Linked DNA regions of Homo sapiens. The protein of the gene in region 2 interacts with the protein of the main gene of each other region in a biochemical or structural test. Each region holds a gene or a part of one and is shown on either strand. Other genes may lie near its edges.

Evidence for each region.
Region 1: the proteins of NACC2 (region 2) and MTA3 form a complex in vitro, tested with the Homo sapiens proteins (one study listed by BioGRID).
Region 3: the proteins of NACC2 (region 2) and MTA1 form a complex in vitro, tested with the Homo sapiens proteins (one study listed by BioGRID).

Annotation. Positions count from the first base shown.
Region 1 is NC_000002.12:42,564,433-42,571,715, forward strand, and holds the start of MTA3 (metastasis-associated protein MTA3), read left to right. Parts: upstream 1-4,199; 5' UTR 4,200-4,313; coding exon 4,314-4,341; intron 4,342-6,004; coding exon 6,005-6,072; intron 6,073-7,283. UniProt on the Homo sapiens protein: Acts as a component of the histone deacetylase NuRD complex which participates in the remodeling of chromatin.
Region 2 is NC_000009.12:136,008,011-136,015,393, reverse strand, and holds part of NACC2 (nucleus accumbens-associated protein 2), read left to right. Parts: intron 1-627; exon of another isoform or gene 628-881; intron 882-1,424; coding exon 1,425-1,530; intron 1,531-2,097; coding exon 2,098-2,195; intron 2,196-3,369; coding exon 3,370-3,878; 3' UTR 3,879-7,383.
Region 3 is NC_000014.9:105,422,698-105,430,080, forward strand, and holds part of MTA1 (metastasis-associated protein MTA1), read left to right. Parts: intron 1-7,383. UniProt on the Homo sapiens protein: Transcriptional coregulator which can act as both a transcriptional corepressor and coactivator. Acts as a component of the histone deacetylase NuRD complex which participates in the remodeling of chromatin.

The DNA.
Region 1 (7,283 bases), on a different chromosome or scaffold from region 2:
ACTCCCAATTCTGTTTCCTTTCTCCTTGGGGCTCTTCTGCTTTGATTCTTGCCATCATATGCCTACACTTCTCTTGGGTTATGTTCCTCTGCCTTTAAAACCCAGGCCCTCCTTAGAATATGAGACAGACTGGCCTTTTCTGAAAGAATTTTACTAAATAAGAGAAGAAGTTAATGAAAGGAAAAAGAAGAGAGAAATAAATCATGGAAAACACGAACCAACAAGATAAAGTCCCTTTTCCAAAGCCTGGCCTCTGGTTTCAGATTAATTACATTTTAGACCTCCAGGCTCCTGTCCTGGGTTCAGTATGACAGAACTCCCAGACTGTGGCCAGCACCAATCTCTTTTAATTTATTTTTTTTGAGATGAAGTCTCGTTCTGTTGCCCAGACTGGAACACAGTGGTGTGATCTTGGCTCACTGCAATCTCTGCCTCCTGGGTTCAAGCGATTCTTCTGCCTCAGCCTCCTGAGTAGCTGGGACTACAGGCGCTTGCCACCATGCCCGGCTAATTTTTTGTATTTTTAGTAGAGATGGGTTTTCACCATATTGACCAGGCTGGTCTCGAACTCCTGACCTCATGATCCGCCGGCCTCGGCCTCCCAAAGTGCTGGGATTACAGGTGTGAGCCACCGCGCTCAGCCAACCGGCACCAATCTCTTTTTATTTTTTCGCACATATAAAAACTCCATCCCTACGTTGAGACAAAAACCAACTCTCCATTTTACCTATTCACCTAAAGCTTTCTTTTTTTTCTTTTGTTTATTTATTTTGAGACAGAGTCTTGCTCTATTACCCAGGCTAGAGTGCAGGGGCATAAACATGGCTCACAGCCTCTACCTCCTGGGCTCAAGCGATTTGCCTGCCTCAGTCTCTTCCAGAGTAGCCAGGACCATAGGTGCGCACCAACTGGCTAACTTTTTTTTTTTTTTTTTGGTAGAGGTGGGGTCTTGCCATGTTGCCTAGGCTCAAATGATCCTCCTGCCTTGGCCTCCCAAAATGCTGGGATTACAGGCGTGAGCCACCATGCCTAGCCACCTATAGCTTTCTTGCTGCATCCACTTCTCTTCAACTAAATGGTAAAGAACTACCTTGTATGTGGTTCTTTAATTGCAACAACTGTGCAAGGAAATTTCATCCATGGAAGGGCTGGATTTGCCCTGGGATTTCTGGCATGGCCTGAGAGACACTTCTTCCTTAGTGATGAGAATAACTGGAATAGAGAGAAGGGACCTAACGCATATGAAGCGCCCAACAAGTGCCAAACACCTTCTATATTTAAATTTTACCAGGCTGGGCATGGTGGCTCATGCCTGTAATCCCAGCATTTTGGGAGGCTGGGCAGGCAGATCACTTGAGGTCAGGAGTTCCAGACCAGTGTGGCCAACATGGTGAAACCCTGTCTCTACTAAAAATACAAAAATTAGCCAGACGTGGTGATGGGCACCTGTAGTCCCAGCTGCTTGGGAGGCTGAGGCAGGAGAATTGCTTGAGCCTCGGAGGTGGAGCTTGCAGTGAGCCGAATCCGAATCGTGCCATTGCACTCCAGCCTGGGCAGCGAGAGCGAAACTCCGTCTCAAAAAAAATTTTTTTTTCTACCATAAGCCTTTGAGGTAGGTATCAACCAGTAGTCATATTTTGTAACCCCTCTTGAGGCTCAGAGGGGTTAAGTAACTTGCTCAAGGTCTTTATAGTTAAACTGCCAAACTAGGAGTGAAGTTAGGGCTGGTTGATGACAAGTTTGTGGTCTAAACCATGTAGCTAAGAAGGGAGAGGCGCCTTTGCTTTTTTAAAGGTGCAGGCTTTCCACCCGTCTTTGGTTGAAAGGTTTCTTTCAATCTACAAACATTTGCTGAACTCCTTTATGTGTGAACCTCTCTGGAATTAGGACATATAAAAGTTTCACAAAGTCCTTGTATTCAGCTCTTCTGATTCTTTGAGTCCACGATTTGTTGGTATTTATTCTTCAGATACTGAGCATCTACTGTGTCAGCTCAGAAATGTAGAGGACATTGGCCTAGGAGCTGGACATGGAAGAGACTAATATATAGAATCTAGAGCAAAAAACGGTTCTAAGGCCTGCCACCATCATTACCTCCTGCTAGTCCCCTTCAAGTCTTTGAGGCCTTTCATGGGGGGCTTCTGGATGAGGCTGTTCCTAAGGGGACATAGGGAGGAGTTTTCTCGGCATCTTTCACCATTTATTGTGGTTAGCACAGTCATCATAAACACCTGGCAAGAGCACTAAGCTTGGGAAATGAGACAGGCACACAATGAATTAACAAAAACAGGGAAAGATTTCGAAGGAGGAGAAATTGCTTATGAAAAATTAATGGGAAAACATCCTAAAGCTTGTGATCCACTTCTTTGCACTTTATGGTTTCTAGGTGGCTTTTGTACTTGGAGAAACACTGTGGTTCAGAACATTCTAGGCCAGAGGAAAGGGCTGATTCATAATCCCAAAATTGCTGCCAGTTTACTGTGTGATTCCAGGTGAATTATTCAACCCTATTTATGTGTCAGCTCAGAAATGGAGTGATGTCAGTTTTGTCAGAATGTTTTTGGTGGGATCTCTGGTAAATGTTGAATGACAGCTATGCAATGTGTGGAACAGAACACTTTTGCTTTCTTCTTTGGGTCAGAATTTGACACATGGCTCAGAATTTGACACACAGCAGAGAACCCTTGGGAATCTGTGGTTTTCTGGGGTTAAAAAGAAAGCAAGAGACACCTGTTATTTGCATGGTGCTCTGTGTTCCCTGGTTTACAAAGCATTTTCAGATATCATCGCAACTGATCCTTACCACACCTGTGAAGGGGGAACTCACGTCCCCATTTTATAGACGAGGAAACAGGTCATAGAGTCAATGTAATTCAATAGTGCTTTATTTTTTATTTTTATATTTTGCCTCAGCTATGCACAGTTTTTTCATCTCAATACTTTGTGATAAGTGACCATCACAAATGTCATCACCAAACCACCAAAACACAACCTTCTTTTCTGGGGGCACCTCTTAGCCCCGCACAGACCTTAAACCCAGAGTCGACAGCACACAGCTGTGTATCACCACACATTCCAAACAAGCCACCACACCAAGAAATCTTCTTCGTGTTTATTATGCAGCAATGTCTGGGAGTACTTTGGAATGGACTGGCTTCTCTAAAGAAAGTTATTTGTGTTCATTTGGGGGATCGCCAGCTAAGATTCAACGTTGTTTTTTTTTTTTTGTATCTGTGAGAGTAGGAAGGCCGTGAAAACAGAGGTTGTTTAGAGAATTGGCCTGGGACAATAACCATTTAGAAGCTTTAGGCACGTAACCAGTTAAGTGTCCATCGACATGAAACTGATTGAATACAATCTCCTCTGTTTGGGGGTGGTGGTGATTGTGAACTGTAGGGCCCTGTTCCCCCATGGACAAAGGAAGCCCCTCACTCCTAAAGGTCCCTTTTCCCAGCAGAACAGGCCCTGCATATACAGTGCCCGTCTAGAGCCAGGGCCTCCATCTGGGTGTTGGACAGTTGGTTCTGCTCAGCCCAGTTTTGGGGTAAACGATGACGCAGTTAGGGTGGCCTAGGAAGGGAGTTTTTCTACCTCTGTCCCCAGCTGGGTCTCTGGCGAGGCGGGAAGCACCCGGAATCTTCCTGGCCCTAGAGCCTGCAGGCTCCAGGCCGGCCCCTTGAATCTCACCGCGAGGAAGGCACCCTGCTGCCTGCACTTATTTGCATCCAAGAGTTTGCATTGAGACTGGCGCTTGCCTACTAGGGCAGCCACAGGGGGGTTCCCCAGGGACAGAGGTAGGGAAGGAGGACCTGTCTTGGGGTGGACAGGTGACGGGGTACCCTGGGTGGGGGAAGAGGTGCTGGGGAGAGGCTAAGCCCCAGCCCCCACTCTAATTCTCTAACAGCCCCTGGTCCGCATTTGAGTGCAGGCCTCTGCCTCAGCCAGGACCCTGACCCCAGGGCCCTCCACTTCCAGCAAGGCCCCCCACCCTCCCTCCCACTCCCACTCCCTTTCCCCTCCCCCTCCCCCCCAATTCCCGCTGGCCCCGCAGCGCTCCAGCCTCCCCGGGCCTCCCCCGGCCCGGCCCACTCGGCCTTGCTAGCCTGGCGCTGGGGGCGGGCACCAGCCCCCACCCCTCGGCGTACCATCCCCTTTACTTCCCCCACCCCCTGTCCCCTCCCTTCCCTCCCTTCCCCCCCGTGGCGAGGCAGCAGCGACGGCGGCGGCGGCAGCGGCGGTCGCGGCTGAGGCTGAGGAGGAGGCGGCGGCGGCGGGCGGGGCTCGGCTCGGGCTCCGCGGGCGGGCGGGCGGACATGGCGGCCAACATGTACCGGGTCGGAGGTAGGCAGGCTCGGCCCGACCCGGCCCGTGTGGGAGCGGGTTCCGGGAGCGGGGGGCCGGGGCGAGTGCACGCCAACTGCCGGGAGCCAAGGGCGCCGGGGCTGAGGTCGCAGTGGGCTGGGGCGCCGGGGCCCGCAGAGGGGCCGGGACTCCCCACCCCCACCCATCCCTTCCCCTCCCCCCACGCGGGCTCGCGAGGGCCCGGGGCCACCTTCACCCTCGCACCCCGCCCAGTGTTTAGGGCCAGGCCTCTACTTGGGGGTACGAATTACCAGACACCCCCCTCCACGAAACCCTCATCGGGGTAGGGCCCGTCGAGCCCCCTGAGAAGGTGGCCTTCTTGCGTGGCTTCTAGGCGCTGGAGAGGATGAGGGGACATCCCCTCTCCTGCTTCTTCCCCACTCAGTGGGAGCCTGGGGTGGGGGTGGGGGTGGGGGCGGTGGGGGCCCAGCCAGGGGCCCAGCTGGACGGGCCTGTTTGCGTGCCGGGGCCCTGCACCTCCCCTTCCTCGGCCCCCCTCCTTTTCGTTTCTGGTCCAGTCCCCCACGAATGGGGCTTCGTGGGAGCTGGGAACCTCAGCCGGAGGTGGGGAGTTGAGCTCTGCCTGGACGTTTGCTCTGCTGCCTGCCTCCTTCCCAGTCTTCTGCGGAAGAGAGAAATAAGGTCAAACAAACTTTCTCCCTACTCACGACGCCCTCCTCCCTCTTTCCTGGTAAAATAATAATTCAGATAAGTGGCGTGTTTGTATGAGAGACTGGCTCTTCCTTCTCTGCTCATTAGCCGAGCTTCTGATGGATGGTGGTGGGAATGGCCTGGCTAAATGAGGCCACTTTGCAGAAGAGAGCGGCGAAAGAGCCACTAAGATAGACAATAACAATGCAGCTGCCTTTCGGATAAACACACAGTGGGAAGTTTCCAGCAAGCCTATTAGATGAGAGGAAAAGCCACACTTGAAAAATTTTATCCTTTTAGTTGAAAGCCTGCAGCAATTTCTTAATCACAAGACATTAAATGGATCTGGATTAAATATGGTAAAAGGGTAAAAAAGATGCTGATATCACCCCCAGAACACTTTGCCTCTTAGAAGTGATCCCCCGGCCCCCTTTTTTCCTCATCTTCCCAGGTAAAACTGTGGAAAAGTTTGTCAGCGTTCTTCCTCTTAACCTGTTCTGCTCATCTGATTTTTTTTTTTTTTTTTAAGTAGTGATTGAAATGTAGGTTGGACTGTGAAGCCTTTCTCCCTGCTCTGAATGTGTCTTAGGTCAATAGTTTTATGTGAGAAGCAGCCTGCAGGGCAAATTGTATTGGAGGAAAAAGATGTGGAAGTAGTTATAGTACAGAGGACACATGTTTAGCGTGCCCTGACTACACAGTGATAAGAGGTGTCTTTTTTGTTTATTATTAAAGAAATGACGTATTGGGACAGAAGTCTAGGAGAAACTGATAAAACATTAATTGAAATGAAAATGCCAAGAAAATAAAGGTCTGTGAATAGTAGGCACGTGAGAGGATATATTAAGGCTGCATTATTATGTTTGCTTTTACCAGTGAATGAATTATGAGCTTAATTTCAAACGTGAAATGCCTAACATAAAAAGTCTTGGATTGACAAATCTGAACTTTCTGTTAAAAAGATTAAGTTCTGTACTTCCTTTAATTACAGATTATGTCTACTTTGAGAATTCCTCCAGCAACCCATACCTAATAAGAAGGATAGAAGAACTCAACAAGGTATACACTGAGTGTTCTTAATTTTAATATTAAAAATATTTATTTTCCCTTGATGGGTAATTGGGTAAAGGGTGGCCTGGTGTGGGGGCTCATGCCTGCAATCCCAGTAAATTGGGAGGCCTGGCGAGTGGATAGCTTGAGCCCAGGAGTTGGAGACCAGCCTGTGCAACATAGTGAGACCCTATCTCTTATTTTTTTTTAATTAATATAAAAAGTAAAAATATGGCTGGGTGCGGTGGCTCATGCCTGTAATCTCAGCACTCTGGGAGGCTGAGGCGGGCGGATCACCTGAGGTCGGGAGTTCGAGACCAGCCTGACCAACATGGAGAAACCCCGTCTGTACTAAAAATACAAAAAAAATAGTCGGGCATGGTGGCACATGCCTGTAATCCCAGCTACTCGAGAGGCTGAGGAAGGAGAATCGCTTGAACCCGGGAGGCGGAGGTTGCGGTGAGCCAAGATTGTGCAATTGCACCCTAGCCTGGGCAATGAGATAAACTCCGTCTCAAAAAAAAATAAAAATAAAAAAATAAAAATAAGCTGGGTAAAGGGGCATAAGAGATGATTTTACTTTCAGTCCCAGACTCTTTGAAAGATGAGATTTTAGGCTGGGCATGGCGGCTCACCCCTGTAATCCCAGCAATTTGGGAGGCCAAGGAGGGGGTGGATCACTTGAGGTCAGGAGTTCAAGACCAGCCTGGCCAACATGGTGAAACCCTGTTTCTACTAAAAAAGTACAAAAAAATTAGCTAGGCATGGTGGCATGCACCTGTAATCCCAGCTACTCAGGAGGCTGAGGCAGGAGAATCCAGGTGGAGGTTGCAGTGAGCTGAGATCACGCCATTGCACTCTAGCCTGGGTGACAGAGCAAAACACTGTCTCAAAAAAAAAAAAAAAAAAAAAAAAGTTGAGATTTTAGAGAGTTATGCACGATTCTGAATTCCGAATATTCTTTTGCTTTTTTGTTACTGAATATTTAAAAGTGTGCAGATATTTTCAAATTGCTTAGAGCCTCTGAAAGAGCAGTTCACTTATGTAACTCAGACCCTTTTTATGTTTAGAGTCATAATGTGTATTTTTCCCTTTTTAGTGAATTAATATTTTCCTCTTCCAGGTTTAGAAGGAGGAAGCTAGGGAACATAATATTGAAAGGAATTGGCTGGGCGGGTGCGGTGGCTCACGCCTGTAATCCCAGCACTTTGGGAGGTCGA
Region 2 (7,383 bases):
GAGGGGTAGGGGCCCACCTTGCTGTGGCCTGAGCTCCCACCCTGCCCCGGCACTGCTTCTGGATGGCGAGCGCAGTGCTGGGCTGCCGGGGCGGCTGGGTGGGCCCCTGGGGTTGGGCTCTGGGGCGCAGGTGCCCACGCGGGCCCTGGTGCTTCACATAGGTGTGGTCCCAGGAAGATGCTCTCGGTCATCCCAGCCTCCAGCAGCTGTGGCCTCTGTTTGGGGTGTGGGGCTGATGGGATTGGAGACGTGCTTCAGTTTATGAGCTCCTCAGGAGAGTTCCTCCAGCCCAGACCCTGGCAGGAAGGGCCTGTGGGAGTGGTGGGGCAGGAGACGGGCCATGGCAGGAAGAGGTCATGGGCACTCACAGGCTCCTGGAAGCAGGCGCACCTGGACATCGTGTCCTTCAGGACATGACATCTCATGGTCATTGAGACTGGCTGCCCCCAGAAAGCATTCCCTCCCCATTGTTCCCAGAGGGTTCAGTCCTGCTGCTTGTCCATGCCCTCGCTCACCCAGACCCTGGTGGGACACCTGGGGTGTGGTCAAGTTTCCGAGGGTAAACAGCACAGCGTGGACCTCTCTGGCCACGCCTCTGCCCTAGCTGGTTTTCCTCTTCACACATACCCAGAGGAGGTCAGCACTGGGCCCTGCAAAGCTCCAGCCATACCCTCCAGCCAGGGGATTCCGTCTCCCTCATCGTTGCCTGAGGGCTCTCTGGTATCTGGGACGGAGCAGAAAGGCAAAGACATGAGTGTTTCCCAAACCCAGGGCCACAGCCAGCCCTTCAGAGTGTGTTCCCTAGGCCAGGTGCAGTGCCCCTCCTCCTGTAATCCCAGCACTTTGGGAGGCCGAAGTGGGAAGATTGCTTGAGGCCAGGTGTTCAAGACCAGTCTGGGCAACATAGGGAGACTTCATCAAAATTAACTGGGCATGGTGGTGGCGCCTGTGGTCCCGGCTACTCAGGGGGCTGAGGTGGGAGGATCACTGGAGCCCGGGAGGTCGAGGCTACAGTGAGCCATGATGGCACCACTGCTCTCCAGCCTGGGCAACAGAGCAAGACCCCGTCTCTAAACAACAACAAAGTGTGTTCTTGGGGAGGGAGCTGAGGCCGGGGACCGCAGCATGGCCGGGAGAGCTTGGAGTTTGGGGCTCGTTGGGGAGGGTGGGGGGCGCTGTGGCTTTCCCCACCCCCTGCTTAGTTCCATGTGTGATTTGGGACCTGCTGGGGCTGGCCTTGGCCATGGCCTCTCCTGGTGACCAGCAGGTGGGACCTCAAATTGCTCCTCCCCAAAAAAAGTCCTAGAAGCTTCCAGCTCCTCCTCCCCCTCCACCTCCCCCCCTCCCCCTCACCCATCTGTGCGCCTCTTCGGACCCTATGGCCCGGGAAGGCCACGAGCCCTTTTTCTGTTTGGTGGCTGCAGGCTCTGGGGTCTACATCACACGCGGCCAGCTGATGAACTGCCACCTGTGTGCAGGGGTGAAGCATAAGGTCTTGCTGCGGAGGCTCCTGGCCACCTTCTTTGACAGGTAGGTCGGGGCAGGAGTGCTGGAGGGCACAATGGAGCTGCGGAGGGTTCTGGCTCCTTTAGCTATGAGCTGTCTGATCGTCCAGGGTTGTGGCATTGAAAGCCCTCTCGCATTCCTGACTTCAGCCGTGGCCGGTCGGCCCCAGGACGGTGGAGAGGCTCCCAGGGAGGGAGGGAGGGGCTGTCTTTCGTGGCCTTTCTCAAACGGGCTTGTGGATGCAACCCCCACAACAGAAAAATGAAGAGCCACACTTATTCTGTTGTGCTGATGGGCCAACAGAACCCTTCCCGAGGACACAGCGGCTTCCTCAGACGTCCCCGGAGTCCCTGAGGACAAGGCTCAGGTCACCTTGCAGCCCCATCACCCGGTCATCTTCTCAGCCCAGACGCTTTTCCTTTGTCCTGTCCCTTAGAGGGTGGCTGGGCCGGCTCCTGCCACTGGGACACACGCAGACCAGCCAAGGGTGAGGCCAAGTGGCCTCCCAGCAGGGCATTCGTGCGGGCGGGTCGCCTCCAGGTACCCTCCCCATCATCCTCACCCTGCCTGCCTTTCCGGTCCCTCCACCAGGAACACGCTGGCCAACAGCTGCGGGACTGGCATCCGCTCGTCCACCAGCGACCCCAGCCGGAAGCCGCTGGACAGCCGGGTCCTGAACGCTGTGAAATGTAAGAGCCTGGGGGTCTCTCGGGTGGGTGGGGCCGGGGCTGGGTTCAGATCCCAGCCTGAGGAGGACTGGGTGGGCCGCGGGGGTGCTCCCGGCCACCTGCAGCTTCCGTCCCTGGGGGCCGAGCATGGTCTGATTGAGGGGAAGATGAGGAGAAAAGAGCAGCTCTCAGAAGCCAGGTCTCGAGGTGTTAACGTTCTTGGTAGGTTTCCAAGTGTGATGAATTCAGCTGCGAAACTATTTTAATATGTGAAATAGATCTAATTTTCCTTTTTGAACAAAACCCCTTATTTACATTTTGCGGTTATTTTGAGCCTTTGCCATCTGTTCGGCCGGCTTCTGCCTCCCGCTCTTGGGCGTGTGGGGGCGGAGCCCGGTCCATCTCCAGGGCAGACCGCCGCCCCCGGCCCGCGCCCCAGATGTGGAAGATGCTGACTGCTGCCGGCTCGCACCAGGTGGCCAAGAGCACAGCCTCCTGTGGCCCTCGGCCCAAGAAGCACTATCTTGTTTTCTTCCTAAAAAAAAGAAAAAAAAAAAAAAAAAAAAACCTTGTGAGGCAAATTCTGTTTTAGAGCAAAAAGGGGCCTTTGCAGCCAGGAATTACAGTCCCCAAGTGTGGGGTGGCAGCCGAGGCTCTGGGAAGATTCTGGGAGGGACCGAGGTGGACGTGGCCCCTGGGACCTGCCTCTGGGTTTGATGCCGTTGGGAGGAATGACCCGGCCTTGGCCTGGGCTCCTGCCAGAGAAAGGAGGCGAGTGTTGCTGAAGTGATGGCTTCTGTCACTCCCCTCCTCCAGGCTGGGACTGGGACGGGGAGGGGTGTGTTATTCCCGAAAGGGGGACCCTCTGACCAGTTCCCGTTAGCCGTTGGGGCTACGGAAGCCCGGAGAGATTAAAAACAGGCCTGAGCCTCACAGCTGGCGGACGGCCAAGGCTGCTGGGCCTGACCAGGCCAGAGACTGTTCCAGAGGAATGGGGTGGGGAGGCCTCCCAGGCCGAGCAGTGAGAAACGTGACCTCTGGTCTTCTGGCTGAGGCCAGGAGAGCCCCAGGTGGTCACATGGGCCCCAGGAGCGGCCGGGGAGGCTCATCCAGGGCATCATGGTTCTGTGGCCTTGGGGAGGGGCGGGCCTCCCGGCAGGCAGGTGGCTGAGCTCACGCCGCCCCGTCCTCACAGTGTACTGTCAGAACTTCGCCCCCAGCTTCAAGGAGAGCGAGATGAACGTGATCGCCGCGGACATGTGCACCAACGCCCGCCGCGTTCGCAAGCGCTGGCTGCCCAAGATCAAGTCCATGCTGCCGGAGGGCGTGGAGATGTACCGCACGGTCATGGGCTCCGCCGCCGCCAGCGTGCCCCTCGACCCCGAGTTCCCGCCTGCCGCGGCACAGGTGTTCGAGCAACGCATCTACGCCGAGCGGCGGGGCGACGCCGCCACCATCGTGGCTCTGAGAACTGACGCCGTGAATGTTGACCTGAGTGCCGCCGCCAACCCCGCCTTCGACGCCGGCGAGGAGGTGGACGGGGCTGGCTCGGTCATCCAGGAGGTGGCCGCCCCCGAGCCGCTGCCCGCCGATGGCCAGAGCCCCCCACAGCCCTTTGAGCAGGGCGGGGGCGGCCCCAGCAGGCCCCAGACGCCGGCGGCCGCGGCCCGGAGGCCGGAGGGCACCTATGCAGGGACCTTGTAAGCGGAGCTGGGTGGCTGCGCGAGGGACCGAGTACTAGAGCTGCTTGCATGCGTTACTAATACAAACAAATGTGATCAAGCCACTTACCTACTGAACTGCTACTGTTGCCTGAGAAAAATGTGATTTTTATTCTGCTTGTATTTAAAATTGATGAAGGAAACAAATGCATTCATTATACTGTAAACAATTAGGCCACTGGCAGCCTCCTGCGAGGAAGTTCCCAGGGCTCCCTTTTGATATTCACAAGGTCAGCCTCCAAGTGTAGCTTCCCTCCCCCTTCTTGGGGAGGGTGGGAGGCCGCCAGGCCCCTGGTGCCCAGCCCTGCCCCTTCCTCCCTGCCCTTCCTGCTCCTCCTGCCCGGAAGACGAAGCAGGGGCCGGCGGTGGTCTGTGGCGAGGGGGCTGGGCTGTGCGTCACTGACCCTTCCTTCCTTCCCCATGGAACCTCTCTGGGGCGACGGGGCAGGGCTCAGGCTCCAGGGCCTAACTCCTCGTTTTTCCTTCTTTCGGAGACTCGGGGCCAGGCCCACCGGGCCTTCCACCTGTGTGGGGTGTGTGCACGAGTGTGTGTGTGTGCGTGTGTGTGCAGGGGTGTGGTGAGGGGGCAGTGATGGCTGTGGCCCACCCCTCGGGGTGGAGAAAAGGGTACTTTACTCTGCCCCCACACCCTGTCCTTGTTCTGCCCGATCCGTCTCGGCTCTGCAGCCCCTCGGTCCCCTGACCCCCAGGGCACCGCTGACCCCGCCTGGCCTCCCACTGTCCCGCCCGGGCCCACTGTGGGACGTGCACAGCTGATGTAGCACACGCTGCCCTCTGCCGCCTCAGCCACTTTGGGATTATGCTTGTCTTGTTTTTTTTAGGTTTTGTTGTAATTTAGATCTATTTCATATATGGTTTGGAAACTTTCAGACTCAATAGAACAAAAACTTTGGGTGGGATGGGTGTCCCTGTCCCCAGCCCACCATGGCTTGGGGTGGGTCATCTGTGGCCGTTAGGGTGCGTCCCCCTGCTCCCCCGCCCAGGGCCAGGGACCACTCGTCTCCCACTGGGGGAAAAAGGGGGTCCCGGGTGGGCGACTAGTACGTGTGAAGCTGAGCTCAGGGCCGGACCTGGGGAGCGGGGGACTCCGCTCGGGCAGGAGGCAGCGGCCAGGGCTGGGCCAGGGCGAGAGTCGGTCCTCCCGGTGCTGGGCTCCCCGTCTGCCTTGAGGGGTGTGCATGGATGGAGGGTGCCTGAGGCTGCAGGCAGGGGATGACCGGGACAGGCCTGGGCTGGGGCAGTTGGAGGTATGGGCACTGGTAGGGGACAGAGGGTTAGGGATCATGTTGGGGGGCCAGGGACAGTGGAGGAAGGGCCCATGGAAGATGGGGCTGTTTGGTTTGAGGCTGGAGTGCTTCCTTTGAAATTTAATTACTGTTTTTTAAGTGGTAGGGCTCACAGACTGTGTGAAGTCCTGTGTGAAGTGCTGGTGTGGCCACCTACCCAGGTGTCCCTCCCTTTTGTTTTGGAGGCCTGTGTCCTTGTCCAGGGGCAGCCCTCCTTCCCAGGTGTGGCCAGAAGAACCCCCCATCCCAAGACTTGAAATGTCTGTTGCTCACCTCTGTCCCTCCAGAACTCGGCTTCCCCATCTTCACTTGCAAAACAAGTGCAGCCCTGCGCCCATCAGCACCCCCTCCGGTGTGCACACAGGCCAGTGAGCGGTGGCCGACCAGCGCACCCCACTCCCCCAACCTCCACAACCCATCAAGCGGAGGCCGCCTCCGCTAGGGGAGGACCATGTGCTGCACCCTGGCCTGGGGACCTACAGGGTGTGGGTTAGACGCATTCCCACTGGGCGGCTCCTTTCTGCCCCGAAGCCCACCCCTGTGGCGAGGCCCTAGGAGACCTCCCGTGGGGCCGCCTCTACAGACAGCACTCAGCCTCCTGGGCTGCCTCCAGCCAGGCCCAGCACATGCCTGCCCTCCAGAAAAATACGTTGCTTTCCAGAAGGAGGTGGGGGACCATGGGCAGGCACTGTGGACGCTAACCTCGGCCCCTCCACCCATTCCTCAGGGCCCACGTCCAGGGGGACCAAGACCTGCATTCCTAGGGCTGCAGGTGGCTCAGTGGTGCAGAGGCATCCAGACCTTCTGCTGAACTAAGAACCACCCAGCCTAGAGGGAGCCTTTCTCTGCCTCTTCCTCCCCTGTCTTGGGCACAGGTGGGGTTGGAGCCCCCATGGGGCCCGCTGGGAACCTGGACCAAGCCTTCCTCGGAGATGGGAGGAAGCCGCGGGGTGGAGCAGGGGCAGGTAGGTGAGGTTGAGCTGCACTTGAGTTCCCTCTGGAGTTTCCTTCATCTGCCCCACACCCAAATTTGCACTTTAATTTGACCATCCCTGGGGGCCTGGCTGCTGACAGAAGGGCTCTCTCTGCCCTCCACTCCAAAGTGGGTGCCCCCCCACCCTTGGCCAGGACAGGGAGGGAGCCGCTGGCTGCTGCCGGAGGTGGTGGCTGCACAGAGGACGCCTGACTGCTGTTCAGGCCCGCACAATGTCCCGTGCCCCTTCCTCACTCGTTTGTAATCGCCGTCTGTTTTGTTCTGGGTAAGGAAGGCAAGAGCTATAGATAAAACTTAAATAATAATAATTTAATGTGAATGGGTTCTGAGCTCTCCCTGCGCCCCGGGCGGGCCAGGCCGAGCATTTTGCACTAATGTGTCCCACGGTGGGCGTGAGTCGGGAGTGTCTGTGGACGTGCGTGGCTGCTGAGCGGACCTGCTGTGTGCTCCCTCCACGTCCTGAATGTACCGTGGGGCGGGGGCGGCGGCCCGGGCTCAGAGGGGCCTTCCAGAGTGCCTTAGCATCCTTTGATCATTTTTCCCAAGGAAACCAATTAAGAAAGCCGGACCCTTCCCTCCTTTGTTTACAAGATGACTAATTCTAGAATCCGGGGTTGTCCTGTCCTGTGAGTGTGACCCTGACTCATCCAGACCCTGTAGAGAGAGACGAGCCACTCAGTATTTATGAGATGTCTGCACCTTTATCCCTAAGCCTGACTATTAGCAATACGCATATCCTATATAGAATCTATTACAGAGCTACGTTATCTCCACACCTTTTGAGGAGGACAGAAGGGACTGGACCGTGTTGGAGCTGCCGCCTGGCAGGTGGTGGGCCTGGGATCTAGCCGCCTCTCCTGCCCTGCCTTCCTCTTCCCCAAGGGGATGGGCCCAGGAGGCAGCTGGGTTGCATGGAGAGGTCCAGGAGGGACCGGAGGTGTGACAGATACTGTGAGCCCGGCGGGCCGCGCCTGGCTGGGTGCCTCGGTACTTGAATTCTGTCTTGTTTTCCGCATTGTGTCTGTCCACCCGAGTTCTCTGTCGTCACTTAACTTTGCATTGGATTTGGTTGTTGTACTTTGCCCCTGAATGTGGACAAAGCTGTGGGCAAGAGGTCAGCAGGACCCGCCTGGGGGTGCCGGCGTTGGTGACTGCGGGTCGGGGCTCCTAGAACATAGGAGCCGGCT
Region 3 (7,383 bases), on a different chromosome or scaffold from region 2:
TTTTAGCTGGCAGGCTACTCCGAGGCCCTGCCAGGTTGGGCTAGGCAGGGTGAAGGTGTGGTGGCAGTATTTTTGTGCCAGCTGAGCTGGGTGAAGTGGTGAGCAGGGAGGGAACAGGGCCTGTTTCTTCCCCATGGAGTGCCCTGGCCACGGACAGAGGCCTTCTGTCTGTGCCTGTGAGGGCAGCGGATGGCCTGGGCAAGGGTGGCGGGGTCAGGGTTCCCTGACCTCTGCTTCTCAAGGGTTGTCCATCCCGAGGGCTGGGGAAGGCTTGAAACCTGCTGTGGGATGAGAGGGCCCCAGGGCAACGGCGGGATGTTTCTTCTCTGGGTTGAACATGAAGATGTTAGATAGCATCCAAAACAGGACAGCAGGAATCGGTGCCTGCCAGCCGCCTGCAGCTTGCTCATGTGGGGCTTCTGCTTTTCAGTGGACAGGCCATTACCATTTTGCCTTGGGTGTTTCTGTTTTTCATTGCAAGAGGTTAACACCCCATCTTTTGGATTTTTTTTGTTTAATTTTTTTTTTTTTTTTTTTTTTGAGATGGAGTCTTGCTCTGTGGCCCAAGCTGGAGTGCAGAGGCGCGATTTCGGCTCACTGCAACCTCCGCCTCCCCGGCCCAAGCGATTTCCTGCCTCAGCCTCCCAAGTAGCTGGGACTAGCCAGGCGCCACCAGGCCTGGTTAAGTTTTACATTTTTAGTAGAGACGGCGTTTCTCCATGTTGGTCAGGCTGGTCTGGAACTCCTGACCTCAAGTGATCCACCCGCTTCGGCCTCCGAAAGTGCTGGGATTACAGGCGTGAGCTCATGCCCGGCCTTTTTGTTTTAATTTTAATAAAAGTTGAGGCTGGGTGACAGAGTGAGACTCCGTATCAAAAAAAAAAAATTTTAATGTAGTTTGAAAGGATGCCAGAAAGCCCCTGCCCCTGCAGGGCCGCGGGCTCTGCCCCGGTCTCTGGCGCAGCCTGGGCGGAAGCACCCTGTCCGTGCTGCTGGTCTTCACTGGGCTTGGCATGTGCCATCATCTGCGCTCTGGCGCGCTGTTAGAAATGTTGCTTTTGTATTTTTATTCTAGTGTTTTTTTGAAGTTTAAACTTTATTGCTCTATATACTTGCCAGTGGGGAAAAAAGTAAACTTAAAAAAAATGTCAGATTTGTAGAGGGCTGCAGCCAGCGCCGCCCTACCCTGGAGTGCTGAGTGCACCGTGTCCCTAGGCACTTGCTGCTCCATGGGCCGACTTTTGGGGTCCCACCCATCTTTTCCAAGAAGGCAGGGAAGAGCCCTGGAGACACGGCCGTCCTGTGAGCACCAGGAGCGGGAGTGGTAGAAGTGGCAGGGGCCCAGGTGTGATGTCCTGGAGGGGATGGCATGGGGCTGTCCCACTTGGCCTGTGAGGATCGGCCTCAGCACTGCGCCATTGGCAGCCCTGGCTCACTCTCCAGGCAGGATGGGCCACTGAGCTTCTCCTGCCTCAGCCACTGAGCACTCCTGGCTTGCTCCACCTTTGTTTTTTTGAGACGGAGTCTCGCTCTGTCCCCCAGGCTGGAGTGCAGTAGCGCAATCTGGGCTCACTGCAAGTCCGCCTCCCGGGTTCACACCATTCTCCTGCCTCAGCCTCCCAAGTAGCTGGGACTACAGGCGCCCGCCACCATGCCTGGCTAATGTTTTGTAATTTTTTTTTTTTTGTAGAGACGGGGTTTCACTGTGTTAGCCAGTATGGTCTCGATCTCCTGACCTTGTGACCCACCCGCCTCAGCCTCTCAAAGTATTGGGATTACAGGCGTGAGCCACTGCGTCTGGCTTTTTTTTTTGTTTTTGAGACAGTCTCACTCTGTCACCCAGGCTGGAGTGCAGTGGCACAATCGCGGCTCACTGCAACCTCCGCCTCCTGGGTTCTAGTGATTTGCCTGCCTCAGCCCCCTGAGTAGCTGGGATTACAGGTGTGCACCACCACACCTGGCTAGTTTTTGTGTTTTTAGTAGAGACAGGGTTTCACCATCTAGGCCAGGCTGGTCTCGAACTCCTGACCTCAAGTGATCCACCCGCCTCGGCCTCCCAAAGTGCTGGGATTACAGGCGTGAGCCACGGTGCCTGGCCCCATATTGTTCTGAGTGGAGAATTTGATCGTTAAGCTCTCAGAATAATAAAAAAGTAGCTGTCAGTGAGAGATGTTGGAATATATGGTCCAATGAAGCACATCCCTCGCGCCCGACCCGCCCTGGCAGTGCCGTTCCCGCCCGTGTGTGTGGGTTCTGGGTGTCAAAACTGCTGCAGTGGCCCTGCAGGCATCCTACCTAGAGGTGGGTCCCCAGCTGCGCATCTGGACGCTGGTCAGCAGGTGAGGCTGGGATGCCAGAGGAGGTGCCGTGTGCCTGGCCAGGTACCCGGGAGGCGGCTTGGGGGAGCACTGGCTGCAGGGCCTCCTTCCTCCTCCTGCTGAACTTGGAGTGCTCTTGCCAGATTATGGGCTGAGTCCTGCTAGGGAGGGTGGCCCCCCTTCCCCAGGAGGAGCCCACCCTGAGACCTGGTTGGGGGGCAGCTTAGACCCTACCTTAGACTCCAGCAGGCTGTCTTGGGAGCATGTAATTATGTTTTTTTTGAGACAGGGTCTCCTGTTGCCCAGGCTGGAGTGCAGTGGCACCATCACAGCTACTGCAGCCTCCACCCCACAGGCTCAGGCGATCCTCCCATCTCAGCTTCCTGAGTAGCTGAGACCACAGGTGCACACCACCATACCCAGCTAATTTTAAGATTTTTTATAGAGGCGGAGTCTCACTATGTTGCCCAGGCTGGTCTCGAACTCCCGTCCTCAAGCGATCCTCTTGCCTTGGGCTCCCAAAGTGCCGCTGGGTTTGCAAGGCTGTGAACTACCATGCCCGGCAGAGCATTTAATATTCTCCAAATGTCTTTCCTCGTGTGCTACCTGGGCTCACTGCTTTCTGGGGCTCTCGTGTTGCTGGTGTCTCCACCCCCACCCCCACCCCAGCTGGCCTGCTCCATTCCTGTCCCGGTGGGCTCATGTCTGAGTGTGCGGACTGGGGGATCTTGGTGGCGATGGAGCCAAGCCCAGGGAGGCTGGGGCCACCCTCATAGTGCAAGGCCACCCAGCACCTCGCCCCTATACCCCACCCGCCCCACCAATGTGCCCCCGGCACCCCCGAGCCCAGGCCCCAAGGCTTGCTTCTATGGGCTTTGCACCACCCTCTAGGCTGCTCCCGCCTGGGCCATGCAGCGCACCTGAGGGGTCTGAGGTGACCGCTCCTCAGAGCCGCCCGGCAGCCTCCCTGGGGCGGGCCTCAGCACTGCAGCCCCGTGATCCGGCCTGGCGTGGGCTTTGCTGCTTTCTCTGCCCGGTGGCCTGAGGAGCTCGAGTGCCCGCCTGCCCCCAGAGCCCTTTCACGGTCAGGGCCTGAGCTCTGTGGGTGCCATTAGGAGGAGGGTCTGCAGATCTGTGCGGTTGGGGGACCCCTGGGGCATGGAGGGGACCACGCGTCCCTTCCCGTCCGTGCCCTGCCAGGCTGTCCTCACAGCAGCGTCGTCACAGGGGAGGAAACCAGGGCAGCGGCAGCGGCTCCTGGTACCAAGCATACCTTAAAAATGAGCCCATGGATGTTGCAGTGAGCCGAGATCACGCCACTGCACTCCAGCCTGGGTGACAGAGCGAGACTTCGTCTCACAAAAAAAAAAAAAAAAAAAAAGAGCCTCAAGGCCTGTGCAGTTGGTCAGCGGTGGAGTCAGGTATGGGGCACACCTGATTCTGCCCTGGCTCATCCCCTGCCTTCAGAGGACAGCAAGGGCGCAGCGCACGTGGGGGCTGGCCCTGAGGTGTGGCGTTCTCTGGGCTGGGCTAGGGCAGTTCTGAGGGAGGGGCGTGTTCTGTCCCATTCCTCCAGGAGACACAGTGCCTGGGCCATCTGGCCACTTGCATGAGGGAACGTCTGTCTGCATCCCCTGGGGGCCGCTGTCCCCATCCCTTGACTGCCGGATGCACCTCGGATGCTGGGGCTCTGGTCTCCGATCCTTCTTGGACTTTGTGGGGACAGCAACGGAGGAGGATGACCCCAAGGATGGGCCGGGCGCGAGGCTTGCAGCAGTGCCCAGGTTTTGCAGATAAAAATACAGGACACCCCTGCAGCATTTGGGACGTTGTCACATGGAGACCCGGCTCCTGGAGCAGGGGTGCTGGGGGCTTTCCTGACCACTGTTGCTGTTTCTCTTGACTCTGTTCCCAAAAGGGAAAAGACAAAGTTCCTCTCTGTGCTCCCTGGTCTCCTGTCTCTGACCATGGCAGACCTGGCTGTGGGTGAGCTCAGGAGAGTGGGCTGTGCCCTGGAGGGTCCCGGACAGGCAGGGACCACGGGCACCGCCCTGCCGCACAGCTCTTGTTGCTCAATGATCTTGGGGGTTGTGTCTGTTCTCCCCCAATTCTTCTGTGGCCCCATCCCCTATTTGTTAAAACTTACGTGTAACCCCAAAATTCACACTTATGTCACTTTCCCAGTCATTTGCGGGCACGCACAGGCTGCTAAAAGCCCAAGTTGCGTGGTGCTTGGGTGCCTGCTGGGGTGAGCGAGGCACCCTGCCCTCTGCCACTGCTCCCATGTTGGAAGCAAATTGTCCTTTCTCCATCTACTGAGGGCCATGCTTCTTGCATTTGGGGGCTCTTGGTGATTTTGCTTTTTAGATGCCCCTGGGGGAGGTGCCGCAGTGCTGTTGAGTGTCCCTGGACACAGGCAGGCTGGGATGGGTCCCATGGAGAGAACGTGTGTTGGACAGGCTCTGCCCCACGTGAGTTCAGTGTCGGAGAACAATAATAATTATAAAGTTCTTTGACAGAAACGTAAAATAAGGCTGTTGCGTATTGATTGGTTGCTGAAAATGTTGTGACCAGAGGCTCGTAGGAACCTGACCCTGTATTTCCTGTAGGAACAGAGGTACGGTGTTCAGTATTAGTGGTGACTTTATGGAACGTAATTACTGCAAACAATGAGAATTGACTCTGGGTGCGTGTATATTTTTTTAACTTAAAGTAAGGTTTAGGCCGGGCATGGTGGCTCACACCTGTAATCCCAACACTTTGGGAGGCTGAGGTGGGCAGATCACTTGAGCTCAGGAGTTTGAGACCAACCTGACCACACAGCAAAACCCCATCTCTACTAAAAATACAAAAAAAGCCAGGCGTGGTGGTGCGTGCCTGTAATCCTAGCTACTTGGGAGGCCGAGGCATGAGAATCACTTGCGTGCAGGACGCAGAGGTTGCAGTGAGTGGAGATCGCACCACTGTACCCCAGCCTGGGCAACAGAGTGAGACTCTCTCAAAAAAAAAAAAAAAAAAAGTTAGGTTTATTGAGATACACGTTTCACATGGCAAACCCACTTATGTGTAGGGGCCTGTGGTTTTCCACTCATGCACAGCTGTGTGGTCGCTGCAGCTCTTCCACACCTGACATGCTTCTCTTGTGACCTTCTGTAGTCAGCCCCCTCTTCTCCCCCAGCTCCCAGCAACACTGACCTATTTTCTGTTCCTGCCGTTTTGCCTTGTCCAGAATGTGGTAGAAGTGGAATTGCACAGCATGTGGGCTTTTGAGTCTGGCGTCTTTCTTTTTTTTTGAGATAAGGTCTCAGTCTGTCACCCAGGTTGGAGTGCAGTGGTACAGCCATGACTCACTGCAGCCTCCACCTCCCAGGCTCAAGTGATCCTTCCACCTCAGCCTCCTGAACAGCCGGGACCACAGGTGTGCACCACCACACCCAGCTAAGTTTTTCGTTATGTTGTCTAGGCTGGTCTCGAACTCCTGGGCTCAAGCGATCCTCCCACTTCGGACTCCCATAGTGCTGAGGTAACAGGAGTGAGCCACCATGCCCAGCCTTATAGTAATTCTTGAAATCAAGTAGTAGGAATCCTTGAACTTTGTTCCTCATTTTCAAAATTGTTTAGCCTGTTCTGGTTACTTGGCTTTCCCTTACAGAGTTTAGAATTGGCTTGTTAATTTCTACAGAAACCAAAAAGAAGTGTTTCTTTTTTTTTTTTCTTTTTTTGAGACAACATCTTGCTCTGTTGCCCAGGCTGGAGTGCAGTGGTATGATCTTGGCTCACTGTATGTAGCCTCAGTCTCTTGGGCTCAAGTGATCCTCCCCACTTCAGCCTCCCGAGTAGCTAGGACTACAGGCATACGCCACCATGCCTGGCTAGTTTTATTTATTTTTGTAGAGATGGGGTCTCACTATGTTGCCCACACTAGTCTCAAACCCCTGGCCTCAAGTGATCCTCCTGCCTTGACTCCCAAAATGCTGGGATTACAGGCATGAGCCATTGTGCCCAGCCTCACCTTGCACTTTTATGTGGTAGAAATGGCTTCTTTCCTTGAACTTCATGGGCCAACTTCTGCTAGCTTCAGATTTTTCTTCTGCAGCCTCCTCACCTCCCTCAGCCTTCGTAGAACTGAAGGGAGTTAGGGCCTCGCTCAGGCTGGGGCTCTGGCTTCGGGGAATGTGTCCGCTTTGATTTCCCATCCCGGCACTTCAGCTTTCTCTCTATCAGTACTAAGGCCGTTCAGCTGTCTTATCAGGCTTGTGTTCACTGGAGCAGCACTTTTTGTTTTTTGGAGATGAAGTCTTGCTCTGTCGCCCAGGCTGGAGTGCGGTGGCACGATCTCGGCTCGCTGCAACCTCCGCCTCCCGGGTTCAAGCGATTCTCCTGCCTCAGCCTCCCAAGTGGCTGGGACTACAGGCACCCACCACCACACCCGGCTAATTTTTTTTTTTTTTTTTGAGACAGAGTCTCCCTCTGTCACCCAGGCTGGAGTGCAGTGGCACGATCTCGGCTCACTGCAAGCTCCGCCTCCCAGGTTCACGCCATTCTCTTGCCTCAGCCTCCCGAGTAGCTGGGACTACAGGTGCCCGCCACTATGCCCGGCTAATTTTTTGTATTTTTTTAGTAGAGACGGGGTTTCACCATGTTAGCCAGGATGGCCTCAATCTCCTGACCTTGTGATCCACCTGCCTCAGCCTCCCGAAGTGCTGGGATTACAGACGTGAGCCACTGCGCCCGGCCTTTTTTTTTTTTTTTTTTTTTGGTGACCAAGTCTCGCTCTGTCATTCAGGCTGGAGTGCAGTGGTGCGATCTTGGCTCACTGCCACCTCCAGCTCTCGGGTTCAAGTGATTCTCCCACCTCAGCCTCCCGAGTAGCTGGGATTACAGGCACACACCACCATGCCTGGCTAATTTTTTTATTTTTAGTAGAGATGGGGTTTCACCATGTTGGCCAGGCTGGTCTCAAACTCCTGACCTCAAGTGATCCACCTGCTTTGGCCTCCCAAAGTGCTGGGAATACAGGTGTGAGCCACTGCGCCCGACCCACTTTTAGTTTCTTTCAGGAACT